Homo sapiens: one gene and its partner. The protein of the gene in region 1 purifies or fractionates together with the protein of each later gene. This does not show direct contact. Each region holds a gene or a part of one and is shown on either strand. Other genes may lie near its edges. The genes, in order: DCAF12L2 and LONP1.

What was found.
Region 2: the proteins of DCAF12L2 (region 1) and LONP1 purify together in Homo sapiens (co-immunoprecipitation; 3 studies listed by BioGRID and IntAct, with this or other methods). This does not show direct contact.

The regions. Positions count from the first base shown.
Region 1 is NC_000023.11:126,163,290-126,172,470, reverse strand, and holds DCAF12L2 (DDB1- and CUL4-associated factor 12-like protein 2), read left to right. Parts: upstream 1-6,181; 5' UTR 6,182-6,546; coding exon 6,547-7,938; 3' UTR 7,939-8,972; downstream 8,973-9,181.
Region 2 is NC_000019.10:5,695,590-5,704,118, reverse strand, and holds part of LONP1 (lon protease homolog, mitochondrial isoform 1 precursor), read left to right. Parts: coding exon of another isoform or gene 1-3; exon of another isoform or gene 4-388; intron 389-3,191; coding exon 3,192-3,330; intron 3,331-4,913; coding exon 4,914-5,092; intron 5,093-7,361; coding exon 7,362-7,449; intron 7,450-7,747; coding exon 7,748-7,870; intron 7,871-7,948; coding exon 7,949-8,065; intron 8,066-8,529. UniProt on the Homo sapiens protein: ATP-dependent serine protease that mediates the selective degradation of misfolded, unassembled or oxidatively damaged polypeptides as well as certain short-lived regulatory proteins in the mitochondrial matrix.

The DNA of each region.
Region 1 (9,181 bases):
ATTTTAGTGACATGGGCAGATCTGTATTTTGCGAGCATTACTCTGGGTACAGCCTGGATAATTGAATGGAGGAGGAAAAGCGTAGTTTTAGGAAAATCACTTATGAAGGTGGCTTGGGAAAGGATGGTAGCTGTGGAAATACTGAGAATTAAATGAATTTGAGAAATGGTAGAAGATGGAATATTGAACCTGAAGACAAAAAATGTGTGTCAAGGATAGTTGCTAGGACTTCAGTTTGTACAGCTGGATGGATGGCGATACTATTCATTAAAACAGGGAACTATATAAGCTCAAGTATATGGGGACTGAAATCAATAACTTGAGCTCATACAGTCTGAATTTGAAGTTCTGTTTTGGTAGCCAAGATGTCAAGCAGGAAGTTGAACAAACAGGTTTGGGATAGAGATACAAAATTGAGATGGCTTGGCATATATTATGCATTTAAAGCTAGGAGTAAGATGGTATTGAAAGTTGGGAAAATAGCAACTAGGCATATATATCTGGTTAAAACATTTCAGAGCATGGAATAGAATGATTTCTCAATCAATTTTATGGACATAATCTCCCTCCAGGTCTTCTTTTATGTACCTAGCTAATATCGGAGCATTATCTATGGCCTATTTTCAGTCTATCCAATTTCACAACTATCAACTGATAAGAAATGCTCTAAATCTAAGAAAAGATCAGTTCTTTGTTCTTTGTCGATATTTATATTGACAATTATTTGCAAAAGGAACCCAAGTCTGGCTGCTTCAAAAAATAAACCTTACAACTTCCACTTGGTGATCTACTAGCATGCGGTAAAGTTATTCTTACAATACATTCTTCCCATACTAATATTCATCTTTAGGTTGGCAACAAAATAGACATTGATGAGCTGTATGTGAACAGACAAGTAGCTCTTACTACAAATAATTTATCCCCATGTGTGCCAGTTTTCATAATGGTGTTTATATGTGTTTCACAATACAGCGGACACTCACAAAACCCTATTAGCATTGCTACCAAGTTGTCTTTGTAAAGTTAAGTAGTGGAAAGGAGGGAAGGTAGTTTTAAGAAATGTATTAAGTGCTTTATAATCTGCCAGGCACTATTCTTATTGTTATATATGTATTAACTCATTTAGCCATCAAAACAAAACCCCATGGAATAAGTGCTATTATTATCCCCATTTAAAAAATCTGGGGATAATTGCAAAGGGAATATTATAACTGGCCCAGTTTCAAGGCCAGCAAGCCCTAGAACCAGAATTCAAAATATGTTATCTGGCTCCAGAGCCGATTCACATAACCACTAGCCTGTAGTGTCTCCCACAAAACATATAACTAGCATTGAATCTACCCTCTCACAAAACAAAGCCCAAGCTTGGACTCTGACACACTCCTTCCTCTTAGAAAATATGGAGAGGAGTAGGGCATAGAAGAGGTCATGTGGTCAAAATTGCCTCCTTTCCTCTAATTCTGTTTATAGTAAATGTAATAATGTGATAAATCTTTCCTATCTTACCCCATCTGACAGCATATGCCTTTAGTTGTGCCATCATAGGGCGAAACAACTTGCTGAGTCATCTATATCACTTTCTGCGTCATGAAGTTTGGAAGAATAATCTGACCACAAACCAGGTTCATAGCTGCTTATCTTAAGAGACTTGAGAAGGTCACAACTTGAAAATGTTATGACTGTGTTATAATTAGAGATTAAGGGAAAATTTATTCAATTTAATAATTCAAGAATATTTTGTCTTGTGTCTGGTATAAGTAACCATATCATTATCAGATGTTATTTTAAAACAAGCTTAATTAACTATATTTCTTTTTTCAGTGTCTTATATTTATACTTGCTGATAAAGAAAATGCAAATGCTATACATACAAATGTAAGAAAGATGTCACAATATACTTTTAAGGGCATCTTTGTTTCATATCTATATACAACATATTGGAAATTACTATATGATCACATTTCTGAACACAAATGCCTCTATATCTGAAAATATGCTGCAATTTGTAAGGCCTTATTTGTAACATCTATTTTTCTGTTGATTATATGAAAGCCACTTTTAGAATTTATTCAAACAGACTTGTTACTGATCCACCCGTCTTACTATTGCCCCACCTTTTTCTCAACTTTCAGTATCTTTTTCCTGAGATTATTTTAGTTTTGGACATAAAATCTAACACTTTAAAAATAATTTAAAACACATTTAGAAACAAGTTTATATTCATGATACCACAGGGAAGTAACAAATATTCTGCCTTAATTTTTAATTGTTAATCTATTTTGGTTATTGGCTAGACATCTCATTTTTTCATTCATAGATTAGAAAAGTGGACAGACACAGTTGATGAAATCATCCAATGGTTCAAGGAAACATATGTAAATATAAATATAAATGTAAATAAATAAGCATAGCTAATAATACAACAACTTGTTTGAAATTATGTATATATAGATATGTAGGTCAAAATAGGTCTGCATAGATATCTATGTAAATTCAAACAAGTTATGTGGCATTATTACAATTCAAGTCCCTCACTTTCTCCATTTCAAGTAATTTAATTTCAAAATATCTTCTACTTGTTGGATATTTCAATTTCTTTTCTCTCTTTTAGTTCTCTTTACTTATCAACAAGTAAATCCCAAGTTTTCATAAACCATTGACTACTTACCTAGGACGGTGTGATGGTACAAAATAAGTAGGAAACATGTAACCTTTTGAGGAGCTTACAATCTGATTGGGATAACAAAATTTAAACACATTAAGTAATTAGAGAACAGCATGAGACAGTGCCCTGAAGCCATTCATATAAGACCCTATTCAATGGCGGGGAATCTAGGGTAGGGAGACAGGCTAGTCTAATACAAAGCAAAAACCTATAATAAACACAGAAATATCTCGGTAAGGACTGACAAAATATTCACACTCACATAGACAGCAGCCCTCAGAGGTAACAGAAGTACCTTATTGGGATCCCAACACTCAGAAAACTATGCAGATACCTGACATTTTTATCACATGCCATTGCAGCTACTGTTTCAACAATAAATGCACTATTTATGATGTTATATATTAGCAGATATTGTATTTTCCTGAACATGGAAGTAACCAGATGCAAAGGAAGTTCAAAATTGCAAGTTCATATACAAAACTGTACATCTCTCAATATATCTTGCCTTTGGTCTGGAAGTTGTTTGTACAGCTTTAAAGAGCTTAGAGAAATTTGAAAGCCTAGCGTAAAAGAAATGTGTTTCAGGTATAATATTCCAGAGGAAGTTAACCTAACTCATTTATCAATACATGATAGTAATCTGACCACTCCCTACAAACATATTATTATATTTAAATATTACATATTTACATTAACAAAAAGTGGAGATTTATGTGGATGTTTTCACCAAACATAAAAAAACTTGTGAATACATATTACTGCACCTCATAAGTATTAATTAAAAGAAATGTGTAAAAAATAGGTCCCAGAGATGATATATTTGCCTTTAAATATCATATGGACAATGTTGTACATCATTTGCATTCAGTATTTATTTATTTATCACTTCCGGTTATCTTTAAGAAGCACAGAAGACATTGCGTATAAAATTTCAACAATAGAGGTAGTTTACATGGTTTTTAAGAGAAGGAAACAAAAAAAGTTTGTTGAATAATATAAAGTAGTCTTAAGTTATGAAAGTATTAGAGTCACACAGAGATTCACATCTTGACTTTATCACTTACTAGCTGTGTGACAATGGGGGAGTCACTACCTTTACTGAGCCTCAATTTCCCTCATTTTAAAACAGGGCAATAAAAATAGAACCTACCTTATAAAGTTATTGTGATGCCAAATGTACATAAAGTATTTAGCATTTGAAGCATTTAACACATCCCTCCAGCCCATGATATGAATAAGTTTTCAATAGATAATAGCTGTTATAAGCATTATTTACTTTTACAAATGTGGTATTTATGCACAATGTAATACTACTCAACCATAAAAGAAAGAAATCATGTCATTTGCAGCAACATGGATGAAACTGTAAATCATTATCTGAAGTGAAATAAGCTAGGCACAAAAAGACAAATATTCCATATTTTCACTTATATATGGGAGCTAAAAAATGTGATCATATGCAGGTAGAAAGTGGAAAGATAGATAATGGAAACTGGGAAGGGTAGTGGGGAGAGGGGAGGATGAAGAGAAAGGGTTAAAGGGTACAGGCATACAATAAGACTGAAGGAATAAACTCAATGTTGGATAGCAGGAAAGGGTGACTATACTTAACAGAAATGTATTGTACACTGGTGATGGACACCCTAAATACTCTGACCTGATCGCTAGGCATATATACATGTAACAAAATTCCTCATGTACTCCATATATTTGCACAAATTAAAAAAAGTTTATGTGGAGAAAAACCCATATATACATACACATATATATGTAATATATATAAACCATATATATACACACATACATATTTCAGCCAATTTGTTATACATATGTTATATATGACCAACTAGTCTGATAATAGCCTAAGATTTTGAGCCTATTTTATTTACCGCAACAGTAAAAAATATGCCATGAAGTCTTATATAATATCAAGTTTTCTAAGTCAAGATTTTTTAGAAAAGAAAAGAAAGCCTTAAGATAGGTTAGGTTAAAGAAATTTGTGATCAGTTTTTCTCTAGTAATGTCACTTCCAATTATGAAATCGTCAGCATTTTTTTCATTGTCAGATTACTCCCAATCCGTCACCCTCACCCTCCTCTTGATACAGCACTAAACATGGGTAGGAATATTGAGGCAGAGAAGGGGAGGATGGGCACTAAGGTGCAACAGTTGGACTGGAGTGATGTGAAGGATCCATGGTGCACTTGGAGTTTCTGGGTTTGAGATAAGTTTGTAAAAAGAGCAGGGAGAATTGGGGGGAAACAGCAACAAAGTATTTTCATGATCTCTGATCAAGGACAGTTAACTCACCACCTGACTTCTGCAAACACGCTTAACAAAGACTTTTTTTGTGGAGGACGATTGGGGCCTGTGCAGACCTGGTATCAGCCACCAGCATTTCAGTGCAAGGTATTACTGTGGAATTGGGGGCTTGCTTTAGGATTGACTGCCCTAAAGCTTTAGAGCAGGTGTGGATCATGTAACTTCTCAGACTGCCAAACTCATGCTTTGAATATCCACACTCTCACCATTTTGCCATTTAGTCACTTTGCAAAGTTCTTTATCATCTGTGCCTGTGGAAATCCTGTGCATTCCTCTGAGTACTGTACCAATGCCCAAGGGGGCCCCCACACCAAGAGAGGGCTCTGCCAAGATTCCTATGACTGAAAGTTTGGGCTGACCTTTCCGTCCCAGGAGAGAGAGGGAGGTACCCCTCTCCTGGACCTCTTCCCCTTCACTCCACCCGCCCTGGGCTGAGTTCGAAAGAACTCAATGCCTTACAGAAAAACCCTTCTCTTCACCCCTCACCCCCATGTCTCCACCCCTATCATCACTGCAGCCCTGGATGCTCCTGAGGCTGCTTTCTGACTAAAGGGTCCCTGATACCACCCGGGTGGAAAGCAGGGCCTAGGGAACTGCATTTGGAACGCAGTTCAAATGCTCAGGGATTCAGGTGCTCAAAGACTTCAGTTTGAGAAGGGGAAAAAAATTATTTGGTGGAAACTGTTTAAGACATCAACCCAGGAGCTGAAACTGGAGAAGCTGCAGGTCTGACACGAGGGTAGAGGTCTCCCTGACGCTGCTGAACCCCACACCCCCCCACCCCCGCACCCGATCCCTTGCCAAATTCAATGTATAATCTAAGCGAAGGGTGTCCCAAGATTACACCAAGCGCACACTGGTTTCTCCAGGCAGACCGTGGCTCGGCCTCCTTCTAGCCCCGTGCTTGATTATATCTTAGGTTTCAGATTTTACTGAAGTACGGATTTTAAGAAGGGTAGTTAGCTGTTGTCCTGAGGGTAGCGAAACAACGCATGTCTGATACTGGGGACCTAGGGTGCTGGCCCTCCGCGACTCTGCCCCTGCAGCTCCGCTACCCCCTTCTCCCCTCCGCCCCCTTCCAGCCTCCACCCCGCGCGGCCTCCGCTACCCGGCAGGCACCCCACGCCAGCCCAGCAGCTCCTCCCACTGCCTCCGCCCTTCACACTCGGGCCCCAGCGTCGTCCTCCCCCCACACTGACTTCGCTCCCGCAGCCATCCAGACAGACACTCTTCCCGCTCTCGCCTAGGTCTGCACCGCCACTGCCGCCCTTGCCGCCGCGCTTCGCCCCGGCTCTGCTACGTCAGGCCGCGCATCTCTGGCCAGGACGACCGCTGCCGCCGCCGCCGCCGCCGAGCCTCAGACTGAAGTCTGGGCGCCCGCGATCGCACCAGCTTCTTGGTCTTAGAGATCCTGAGCTCTCGGCTGACGCGGAAGCGCAGCCATCCCCACCACCGCCGCCACGGCCAACACGGGTGCCACGCGCCGCCACCGCCGCCGGGCCGCCGCCGCCGCCGCCGCCGCCGCCGCCGCTGCTGCAGATCGCCCGCCGCCCACCATGGCCCAGCAGCAAACAGGTAGCAGGAAACGGAAAGCGCCCGCGGTCGAGGCGGGAGCCGGGAGCTCGTCGTCGCAGGGTTTAGCGGCGGCGGACGGAGAGGGGCCTCTGCTACCCAAGAAGCAGAAGCGGCCGGCGACGCGTCGCAGGCTGGTGCACTATCTGAAGGGCCGGGAGGTAGGAGCGCGGGGCCCAGCCGGGCTCCAGGGCTTCGAGGGCGAGCTGCGGGGCTACGCCGTCCAGAGGCTGCCCGAGCTGCTGACGGAGCGCCAGCTGGACCTGGGCACCCTCAACAAGGTGTTCGCGTCACAGTGGCTGAACGCCAGGCAGGTGGTGTGCGGCACCAAGTGTAATACGCTGTTTGTGGTGGACGTGCAGTCAGGCCACATCACGCGCATCCCCCTCATGCGGGACAAGGAGGCCGGGCTGGCCCAGGCCCACCAGGGCTGCGGCATCCATGCCATCGAGCTGAATCCCTCCAAGACGCTTCTGGCCACCGGCGGCGAAAACCCCAACAGCCTGGCCATCTACCAGCTGCCCACCCTGGACCCCCTGTGCCTGGGCGACCGCCATGGCCACAAGGACTGGATCTTCGCAGTCGCCTGGCTGAGTGACACCGTAGCTGTGAGCGGCTCCCGCGACGGCACCGTGGCTCTGTGGCGGATGGACCCAGACATGTTTAATGGCAGCATTGCCTGGCACAGCGAGGTGGGTCTCCCAGTATATGCCCACATCCGTCCGAGGGATGTGGAGGCCATCCCCAGGGCCAGCACCAACCCCAGCAACCGCAAGGTACGGGCCCTGGCCTTCAGCGGCAAGAACCAGGAGCTGGGAGCGGTGTCCTTGGACGGCTACTTCCACCTGTGGAAAGCCCGGAGCACACTATCCAGGCTCCTGTCCATCAGGCTGCCCTACTGCCGAGAGAATGTGTGCCTGACCTACTGTGATGAGTTGTCCCTGTACGCTGTGGGCTCTCAGTCCCACGTCTCCTTCCTGGATCCGCGCCAGCGCCAGCAGAACATCCGGCCCCTGTGCTCTCGAGAGGGTGGCACAGGCGTGCGGTCGCTGAGCTTCTACCAGCACATCATCACTGTGGGCACCGGCCATGGTTCCCTGCTCTTCTATGACATCCGCGCCCAGAAGTTCCTGGAGGAGAGGGCCTCTTCCAGCCTGGACTCCATGCCGGGGCCCGCAGGGAGGAAGCTCAAGCTTGCCTGCGGCAGAGGCTGGCTCAACCAAGATGACGTCTGGGTGAACTACTTTGGTGGCATGGGAGAGTTCCCCAATGCGCTCTACACCCACTGCTACAACTGGCCGGAGATGAAGCTCTTTGTGGCTGGGGGGCCTCTCCCTTCAGGCCTCCATGGGAACTACGCAGGCCTCTGGAGTTAAGGATGGACGCCTTGTTCTCAAAGTGCACAGGTTTACCTTTCAGTTCCGCCTGACTTTCCTTCTTCATGCTGCATTTGTGCTTTTAACTTTGTGTGGCTTTTGTCTTCCAGGTGGAACCAGTCCAACTTACGTGTGCTTAATGTATTAGGCAGAGAAAGAAAGAGAGAGAGCGGGAGCGAGAGAGCACAAGTGGTCCTTTCGGCAGTCAAAACTTTGGCTTTAAAACTCTCATTCACGTTTCCCAACAGCAGTATATTTTTGCCTTCTCATTCAAAGAGTTTTGGCTAAACCTTAATTGTGTTCTGTCTTTCAGTGATTCACATACCCTCCTTCTTTAGGTTGATGTAGTCATAGTCTTCACTACTATTCAGTACGTTAGTTTTATCAATATTGCAATAGTGTTCAGATCTTTTACACATGTTAGATGTGTGGTGTTTTGGGGAAATGTGAGCTACAAAGCATCTTTGGGGTTGTTTTGAGGAACTACCCATCATTTATAGCCTTACTCTAATTACAAAATGCAGTTCAGGTTCTAGATTGCCACCATTCTAGAGTGTGGCACACACCATTCTAGGGCGTGATTCATTTGGATGTTGGAAACTCAATGTCTGTTGTTTGTATAGTGTTGATGTGTAAAATGCTTTAAAAATATGTTCTGTTAGTTAGAAATCTTACAATGTTGTTCATACTATTAATCAACATTTTTGGTTATTCAGTAAAACTTTACTATCCTCAGGCCCTCCGTGTTCTTATTTAAAGCCGCTGTATTATGGCCTGCTTTTCTATGCTACAGATTTTCAGAACTACTCAATTCTGGTCTATATATGTGGTAGTGCAATCAGGGAGGTATTTTTGGGGGTATATGGGGTACACATCTCTTTAAATTCAGGTAGCTATTTACAGTGAAAAGCCAGTTGTGGCAGTTGTGCTCAGAGTAGGTGTTGATTTTTTATTACTGTATACATGGATAATTCTGGATCCAGTATGTGATGTGTTGCAGAAAAATAAATAAAATGTGTTCATCATCTTAGCAATTAAGTGGCAGACTTAAGTTCTTAATACTTAAATATATGCTTTCTTTTTTCATTTGTCTTTCTGAGAACGTATTTATCAAAGTCAAAACTTTCCAGGACAGAAGCTGAATCTGAAGCATTAGCTATGCAGACATTACTTTGTACATCTCTTTTTGAAAATGAAACTTATAAGTTAAAAGATTAAACAACATCTTGAATACGTTATGAAA
Region 2 (8,529 bases), on another chromosome or scaffold:
TGAGGACCTGGTGAGGAACCTGGGCCCCCTGGGTCACCCAGAATGCTCTCCTGTCTCGGGGACCTTCACTCAGCCCCATCTGCAGTTCCCTGCTGCCATGTGAGAGGCCTGTGCCGCCGCCTCCTGTGGGGGGAGAACGTAGATGTTTTCGGGGTTCTTCTGTCTCCCAGCGAGTGCCTCAGCTGCCCTTGGGCTGGTGGAAGTACCTGCTCAGACCGGGCCTTGTCCTGCAGAAGCAGATAGCTCCTTCCCCCAGGAGCTGAGGGGGTCTGTAAGGCGGGTTCTGTCCTCAGGTCCTGGGAAGTCACGGGGGACAAGCCCTCAGTACCTGCGTGTCACCAAGATGCCTGCAGCAGGCTGCCAGCTACCTCTCCCACCCAGAATGCTCTCCGCAAAGTGTCACTGCCTGTGTCACTTCCACAGTGACTTCATGTGTCTCTAAACTCCAGCATCCGTGTGGCCCAGCTGGCCTGTCCCGGTGCGTCTCGTATGCCCGTTGGGTGGCAGTGCGCCCTGACGGTGTCTGCTCGTGGGGCCGCCTGGCCCTTCCTCGGAAGCCGTCCTCCTCTTCATCCTCTTCCCCAATCCTGCCGTGTGCTCTTGCAGCCCTCACTGACTTGCTCCTGGCCCATAGTGGCCGCTGCTCACTGCTGCACGGCTCCCAACTTGGGGACCAATATGGAGTTGCCCTCCCAACCTTCAGCGTCACTCTCCCGGCAGGGGACCTGGCCTCCATTTCCCCACCTGCCCTGGGTCAGGCCTTGTCCCATTTTCTAAGCCTCGTCCCCTCTGTGGTTCTGCTCACTCAGCCCTGGGCAGAAGCCAGTGCCGTCTTGGCTCTCCTGATGAGTCAGCAGTGGACCTCCGGCCATCTCCTCCTTCCTGCACTGGGTGCTTTGGACAGGGCAGTTTGTAAATTTTTTTTTTTTTTTTTTTTTGAGATGGAGTCTCACTCTGTTGCCCAGGCTGGAGTGCAGTGGCACGATCTCGGCTCACTGCAAGCTCCGCCTCTCGGGTTCATGCCATTCTCCTGCCTCAGCCTCCCGAGTAGCTGGAACTACAGGTGTCCGCTGCCACGCCCAGCTAATTTTTTTTTTTTTTTTTATTGATCATTCTTGGGTGTTTCTCGCAGAGGGGGATTTGGCAGGGTCATAGGACAATAGTGGAGGGAGGGTCAGCAGATAAACAAGTGAACAAGGGTCTCTGGTTTTCCTAGGCAGAGGACCCTGCGGCCTTCCGCAGTGTTTGTGTCCCTGGGTACTTGAGATTAGGGAGTGGTGATGACTCTTAACCAGCATGCTGCCTTCAAGCATCTGTTTAACAAAGCACATCTTGCACCGCCCTTAATCCATTTAACCCTGAGTGGACACAGCACATGTTTCAGAGAGCACAGGGTTGGGGGTAAGGTCACCGATCAACAGGATCCCAAGGCAGAAGAATTTTTCTTAGTACAGAACAAAATGAAAAGTCTCTCATGTCTACTTCTTTCTACACAGACACGGCAACCATCCGATTTCTCAATCCTTTCCCCCTTTTCTATTCCACAAAACTGCCATTGTCATCATGGCCCGTTCTCAATGAGCTGTTGGGTACACCTCCCAGATGGGGCGGCTGGCCGGGCGGGGGGCTGACCCCCACTCCTCCCTCCCAGAGGGGGCGGCTGGCCAGGCAGAGGGGCTCCTCACTTCCCAGTAGGGGCGGCCGGGCAGAGGCGCCCCTCACCTCCCGGACGGGGCGGCTGGCCGGGCGGGGGGCTGACCCCCCCACCTCCCTCCCGGACGGGGCGGCTGGCTGGGCGGGGGGCTGACGCCTCCACCTCCCTCCCGGATGGGGCAGCTGGCCTGGTGGGGGGCTGACCCCCCCCCCAACCTCCCTCCCAGACGGGGCGGCTAGCCGGGCGGGGGGCTGACCCCCACTCCTCCCTCCCGGAGGGGGCGGCTGGCCGGGCAGAGGGGCTCCTCACTTCCCAGTAGGGGCGGCCGGGCAGAGGCGCCCCTCACCTCCCGGACGGGGCGGCTGGCCGGGTGGGGGGCTGACCCCCCCACCTCCCTCCCGGACGGGGTGGCTGCTGGGCGGAGACGCTCCTCACTTCTCAGACGGGTCGGTTGCCAGGCAGAGGGTCTCCTCACTTCTCAGGGCTGCCGGGCAGAGACGCTCTTCCCCTCCCAGACGGGGTCGCGGCCGGGCAGAGGCGCTCCTCATATCCCAGACAGGGCGGCGGGGCAGAGGCGCTCCCCACATCTCAGATGATGGGCGGCCGGGCAGAGACGCTCCTCACCTTCCAGACTGGGCAGCCAGGCAGAGGGGCTCCTCACATCCCAGACGATGGGCGGCCAGGCAGAGACGCTCCTCACTTCCCAGACAGGGTGGCGGCCGGGCAGAGGCTGCAATCTCGGCACTTTGGGAGGCTAAGGCAGGCGGCTGGGAGGTGGAGGTTGTAGCGAGCCGAGATCACGCCACTGCACTCCAGCCTGGGCACCATTGAGCACTGAGTGAACGAGACTCCGTCTGCAATCCCGGCACCTCGGGAGGCCGAGGCCGGCGGACCACTCGCGGTTAGGACCTGGAGACCAGCCCGGCCAACACAGTGAAACCCCGTCTCCACCAAAAAAATAGGAAAACCAGTCAGGCGTGGCGGCGCGCGCCTGCAATCGCAGGCACTCGGCAGGCTCAGGCAGGAGAACCAGGCAGGGAGGTTGCAGTGAGCCAAGATGGCAGCACACAGTCCAGCCTCGGCTCGGCATCAGAGGGAGACCATGGAAAGAGGGAAAGGGGAGACCGTGGAAAGGGGAGAGGCAGAGGGCAGAGGCAGAGGCAGAAGCATTTTTTGTATTTTTAGTAGAGACAGGGTTTCACCGTGCTAGCCAGGATGGTCTCGATCTCCTGACCTTGTGATCCGCCTGCCTCGGCCTCCCAAAATTCTGGGATTACAGGCGTGAGCCACTGTGCCTGGCCTGTAAATTGTTTTATAGAGATGGGGTCTTGCTGAGTTGCTCAGGCTGGTCTTGAACTCCTGGGCTCAAGTGATCCTCCCACCTGGGCCTCCCAAAGAGCTGGGATTACAGGCGTGAGCCACCGCGCTCAGCCCCACACATGGGTTTCAAGCCCCTTGCAACCACCCAGCCAAGTCCAGCAGAGAGACAGGCAGCTCGTGAGCTCCACTCAGCATCTCTCCATCTGTCCCCTGGCAGTGTCACCCGCAACTACCTAGACTGGCTCACGTCCATCCCTTGGGGCAAGTACAGCAACGAGAACCTGGACCTGGCGCGGGCACAGGCAGTGCTGGAGGAAGACCACTACGGCATGGAGGACGTCAAGAAACGCATCCTGGTGAGCCCAGTGTCTGGCCTGTTGTGGATTTGCATGTGGGTGCCCGGGCCCAGGACTCTTGTGTGCTGTGGGTTGAGATTTCAAAGGAGCCCCCTGGTGAATTCGTAGGCCTGGGGGTGCTGGTCGGGGGGATCCCGGCGGAGGTAGCATCCTGCCCTGCCCCCGAGGGCTCGAGGATTTCCCAGGTGGACTGAAGTCATGCCTGACGGGCCGGGCATGGTGGGGCTGCTTGTAGTCCCAGTTACTCAGGAGGCTGAGGCGGGAGGATCACTTGAGCCCAGGAAGTTGAGGCTGTGGTGAGCTGTGATCATGCCACTGCACATCAGGTTGGGTGACAGAGTGAGACCCCCATCTCTACAAAAAATTTTAAAATTGCGGCTGGGCGCTGTGGCTCATGCCTGTAATCCCAGCACTTTGGGAGGCTGAGGCATGCAGATCACCTGAGGTCGGGAGTTGAAGACCAGCCTGACCAACATGGAGAAACCCCATCTATACTAAAAATACAAAATTAGTTAGGCGTGGTGGCGCATGCCTGTAATCCCAGCTACTTGGGAGGCTGAGGCAGGAGAATCGCTTGAACCCAGGAGCCAGAGGTTGCAGTGAGCCCAGATCGTGCCATTGCACTCCAGCCTGGGCAACAAGAGTGAAACTCCGTCTCAAAAAGGAAAAAAAATTTTTTTTAATTAGCCTGGTGTGATGTTGCGTGTCTGCAGTCCCAGCTACTTGGGAGGCTGAGGTGGGAGGACTGCTTGAGCCCGGGAGGTGGAGGCTGCAGTGAGCTGTGATGCACCACTACACTCCAGCCTGGGTGACAGAGCGAGACCTTGTCTGAAAATTAATTAATTTTAAATTAATTTTTAAAATATCACTCCTGAGACATTGGAAACCAGGCAGGCAGGTGGGAGTCAAAGGTTAAAAAACAGGAGTCAGAGCCTGGGCATGGTGGCTCACACCTGTAATCCCAGCACTTGGGGAGGCCGAGGCGGGTGGATCACAAGGTCAGGAGTTCGAGACCAGCCTGACCAACATGGTGAAACCTCGCCTCTACTAAAAATACAAAAAAAGTAGCCAGGCATGGTGACTCACACCTGTAATCCCAGCTACTCAGGAGGCTGAGGCAGGAGAATTGCTTGAACCCAGGAGGCTGAGGTTGCAGTGAGATGAGATCGCACCAGTACACTCTAGCCTGGGCCACAGAGCAAGACTCCATCTCAAAAAAAAAAAAAAAAAAAACAGGAGCCAGAGGCATTGGTGGACTGCTTCTCTGGGTTGGACCGGAGAGAGTGGAGCATTTGCGGTCTTCAGGGTCCCGGGAACTGCTGAACGGGCCTGGCACTGCCGGGTGGCCGCGGTCTCCTAGCACCTAGTTGTCCTTTGGTGTTAAATTGTTAAATGGAGCCCTTGTCACAGGCTGCCCCTCCCCGTGGCCAGTGGCAGCTCTGATGTGCTCAGCCTCCCGGACAATCCTGGTCCCTTCTCGCAGCCCTCAGACGTCTGAAAGGCAGTGTGCAGGTGGCGAGAGTCATGCGCGGGTCCCCGGCTTCCCCAGCTCACGTGCCCACTGAACCTGCCTCTGTCTGCAGGAGTTCATTGCCGTTAGCCAGCTCCGCGGCTCCACCCAGGGCAAGATCCTCTGCTTCTATGGCCCCCCTGGCGTGGGTAAGACCAGCATTGCTCGCTCCATCGCCCGCGCCCTGAACCGAGAGTACTTCCGCTTCAGCGTCGGGGGCATGACTGACGTGGCTGAGATCAAGGGCCACAGGTAGGCCTGGCCTGACAGCTCTCCCCACGCACTCCCCTCAGCTGTGCTGCCGGGCTTCGTCTTCTCCGGTCACCCTTTAACATCTGGTAGAGCAATCCGGGTTGTGGGCAACCGATTCCACTCATGCTGGAGTAACTGAAAAGTCCAGCCATGTGGCGGACTTCAGGCCCAGCTGATTCCAGGTGCTCAAACAGCGCTGGCAGGAACCTCCATGGCTTGACCCCTGGGAGAGAGACTTCTCGGGCCGGCCCTCAGCAGACACCCCCGGTAGTTCCAGCATAGGACCTGCAATGCCCGGGCCAGAGCTGCAGGGCCGGCGTTTGCCGTGCAGATGCTGGTCTATGTGGGCTGTGGCTGATGCCCCAGGACTAGGGGTGGGGTCGGCTCCACCCCCCACCCCGAAGCCTGTGGGCTGGAGTCAGGAGAGACGGTCTCCAGTGAGGACCGGGCCGCGCACACCAGAGAAACCTTGGCGCCTCTGTGGGCTCACTCGTCCCGGCCAGCCTCAGGCCCAGAAGCAGGGGCCACGGCCCTCAGAGTTCAGCGCCCTCCCACCTGACCCTTTGGGTGGGCAGCCGGGCGCGGCTTTTCTGGGGCTTCCCTCCTCGCCAGCCTCTGTAGACAGCGGTTCTTTGGAAACCGTAGCCTCAGTGAGAGCCGAGTGTGAGGCATCTGCTGAGTCCACCACGTGTTTCCATCCTGCAAGGCATTCACTTGAGTCCAGGTTTAAAGTGAACATTTCTGCCTTCTCTAAAAACATCCCCAGCTCCCGACCTCCCGGCTCAGGCCTTCCTAGCATCTGCCCGCCCGCTGCAAGGGTGACAGCATGCTGGCCCGCGCAGTGTCCAGTCCCCAGGGGGCGGCCACTCTGACCAGCCGGGAGTTGGGAGGAGCTGGAGGAGGTGGGGCCAGTGCAGCTTTGGGGAGTCCCAGATTGACTAGGGGGTGGGGGGTGTGAGGGGGAGGACAGGGGACCTGTTCTGCAGGCCCTTGGTTGGGCTGGGGTCTGAGCAGGAAGGAGCAGCTGGGTGAAGGTGGAGGGGTGGGGGTGGGGGGCACCCAGTCCTTCCTGGGCAAGCGGTTTGAAGTGGTCGCGAAGCCTCTTGGAGCCTGGTTCAGGGATGGCTGGAGGTGCGGGCCGGAGGAGAGACCCTGGCGGGGTTCTGAACAAGCCTGGGTCACCTCTGGCCTTGGGAGGGAGTCACCAGGTAGCGGGGCTGCGGGGAGGGCAGGCGTCTGCTGACGTCTCTGGGTTCCTGAGACAAGGACAAGGACAGGAGACTGGCTGCGGGGCGATGGATCGTTGTTATTAACAGCAGCAAAACCCTCCTTTGCCCCCAGCTCTCCAGGGCTCCCACGTTCCTCGGTCAAAGCCCAAGTTCTCACTGCAGCCCACAGGACCCCGCATGACCTGCCCCACCCCCTCCTCTCTCTCCCTCTCTTCTTCCTCCCCCTCCCTCTACCCCCTTCCCTCTCCATCTCCTCCCTCTTCCCCCTCTCCTCCCTCTTCTCTCCCCCCCTCCTCCCTCTGCCTCAGCCTCATGGCCTCCTCACTGTTCTTCTAACACACCAGGCGTGGTCCTGTTTCAGGGCCTTTGCACGGGCTGTGTCCTGGGCCTGGAACACATCTCTCAGACCCTCACGTGGCTCTCTCCTCACGTGCGTTGCTCGGGGCCTCTCCCTAAGACACTCCTTACCCCCCTGCACACTTAAAGTGTCACACACATCCCAGTGGCATCTCAGTCCCTCCATCCCTGCCTCCCTGTGTCTTCATCCCACAGACAGAGCCTTCCTCACTGTCTCTCGTGGGGCCTGGGATTCTTCTGTCCCTGTCGCGGGCCGGGCCCCTGTGCTGGGGCAGAGCACAGAGCTTGCAGGAAGCCCTCCTGAGAGCCAGTGCTGGCCATGGCTAGTATCACCCCAGCCCTTGAGGGCTGAGGCGTGCCTGGCGTCCCTCAGTGAGGAGTGGGGGCCTTCTGCTGCCAGCGCCTGTCTGGCTTTCACCATGGTGTCAGCTGAGGGATGGGACTGAGGGAGATCTGGCTTTGAATCAGTGACCCCAGAATCTGAGCTGGCGAGTCAGGGCAAGTGACCAGCGTGCCTGCAGGTGCCACACATCCGGCGGCTGCCAGCATTTCCGCCTCCCACATCATGGCCACATCTTGTGGGGCTCCAGGTGGCCTCTCCCCTGTGGCCCTGGAGGGTGCATGGTGTCGTTGTGGCCGAGCCAGGCTACCAAGTGACCTCTGACCCCGCTGTGCACCCACAGGCGGACCTACGTGGGCGCCATGCCCGGGAAGATCATCCAGTGTTTGAAGAAGACCAAGACGGAGAACCCCCTGATCCTCATCGACGAGGTGCGTGCGGAGAGGCCCGGAGACCCCCTAACCCGGCAATGCCGTGTGCAAGATGAAGCCGAGCCTTCCGGGTCCTAGGATCCCCGAGCCAACTCAGGGGCCATCGCCGTGATGCTGGCCCTGATGGCACGGACGGGTCCCTCCCACCCACAGCCACGCCCAGCAGGCTGCCCGTCCAAGGCAGGGTGTGGGTGCCGCTCTCACTCGGGGTCTCCCCAGCCCTGACCCTGGGGTCTCCCCACTGGGCGGGCTGGCCAGGGGCACGGCGAGGGGCACCACCTGCTGTCTGCTGCCCCAGGTGGACAAGATCGGCCGAGGCTACCAGGGGGACCCGTCGTCGGCACTGCTGGAGCTGCTGGACCCAGAGCAGAATGCCAACTTCCTGGACCACTACCTGGACGTGCCCGTGGACTTGTCCAAGGTGGGGGGCCTGTCTGGGGCCTGGGCTTGCTGGGGAGGGTAAGCGGCCAGTCCCCCAGCACCTTGCCGCCGCCCCCAGGTGCTGTTCATCTGCACGGCCAACGTCACGGACACCATCCCCGAGCCGCTGCGAGACCGTATGGAGATGATCAACGTGTCGGGCTACGTGGCCCAGGAGAAGCTGGCCATTGCGGAGGTAAGCCCAGCCCCTCCCCACTGCTGTCCCCTTCCCAGAGCAGGGGGCGCCCCCCAGAGCCTGCAGAGGCCGTGCCTCTGGGAGCTCCTGGGCCCGGGAGAGACAGGTGGGACCTGCGGCCGAGGAGCAGATGGGGCCGTGAGAGACACACCAGACGCTTGCGAGCAGCTGCAGGTGGCGCGAGTGGGCGCAGGGTTTAGGGCCTGGGACTGTCCAAAACACCGCCCACCACCGTCAGGCCACACACTCTGTCTCCCGGGGCCTCCAGGCTGCCCCATGGTGGGGCCCCCACCTGGCCCAGAGTGTAGGGAAGGTTTCTGGCAGCCGGAAGCAGTGGGGCCTGTGGCTCCCACCCAGAATGAGGCTTGGAGGAGAAGTGGTTTCAGTGAGGAGCATGCAGGGGCCCATATTTCTCATGTGTTTTTTTTTCTGCAAAGGTGCTGAGTGCATTTCTCCCCTAGGAG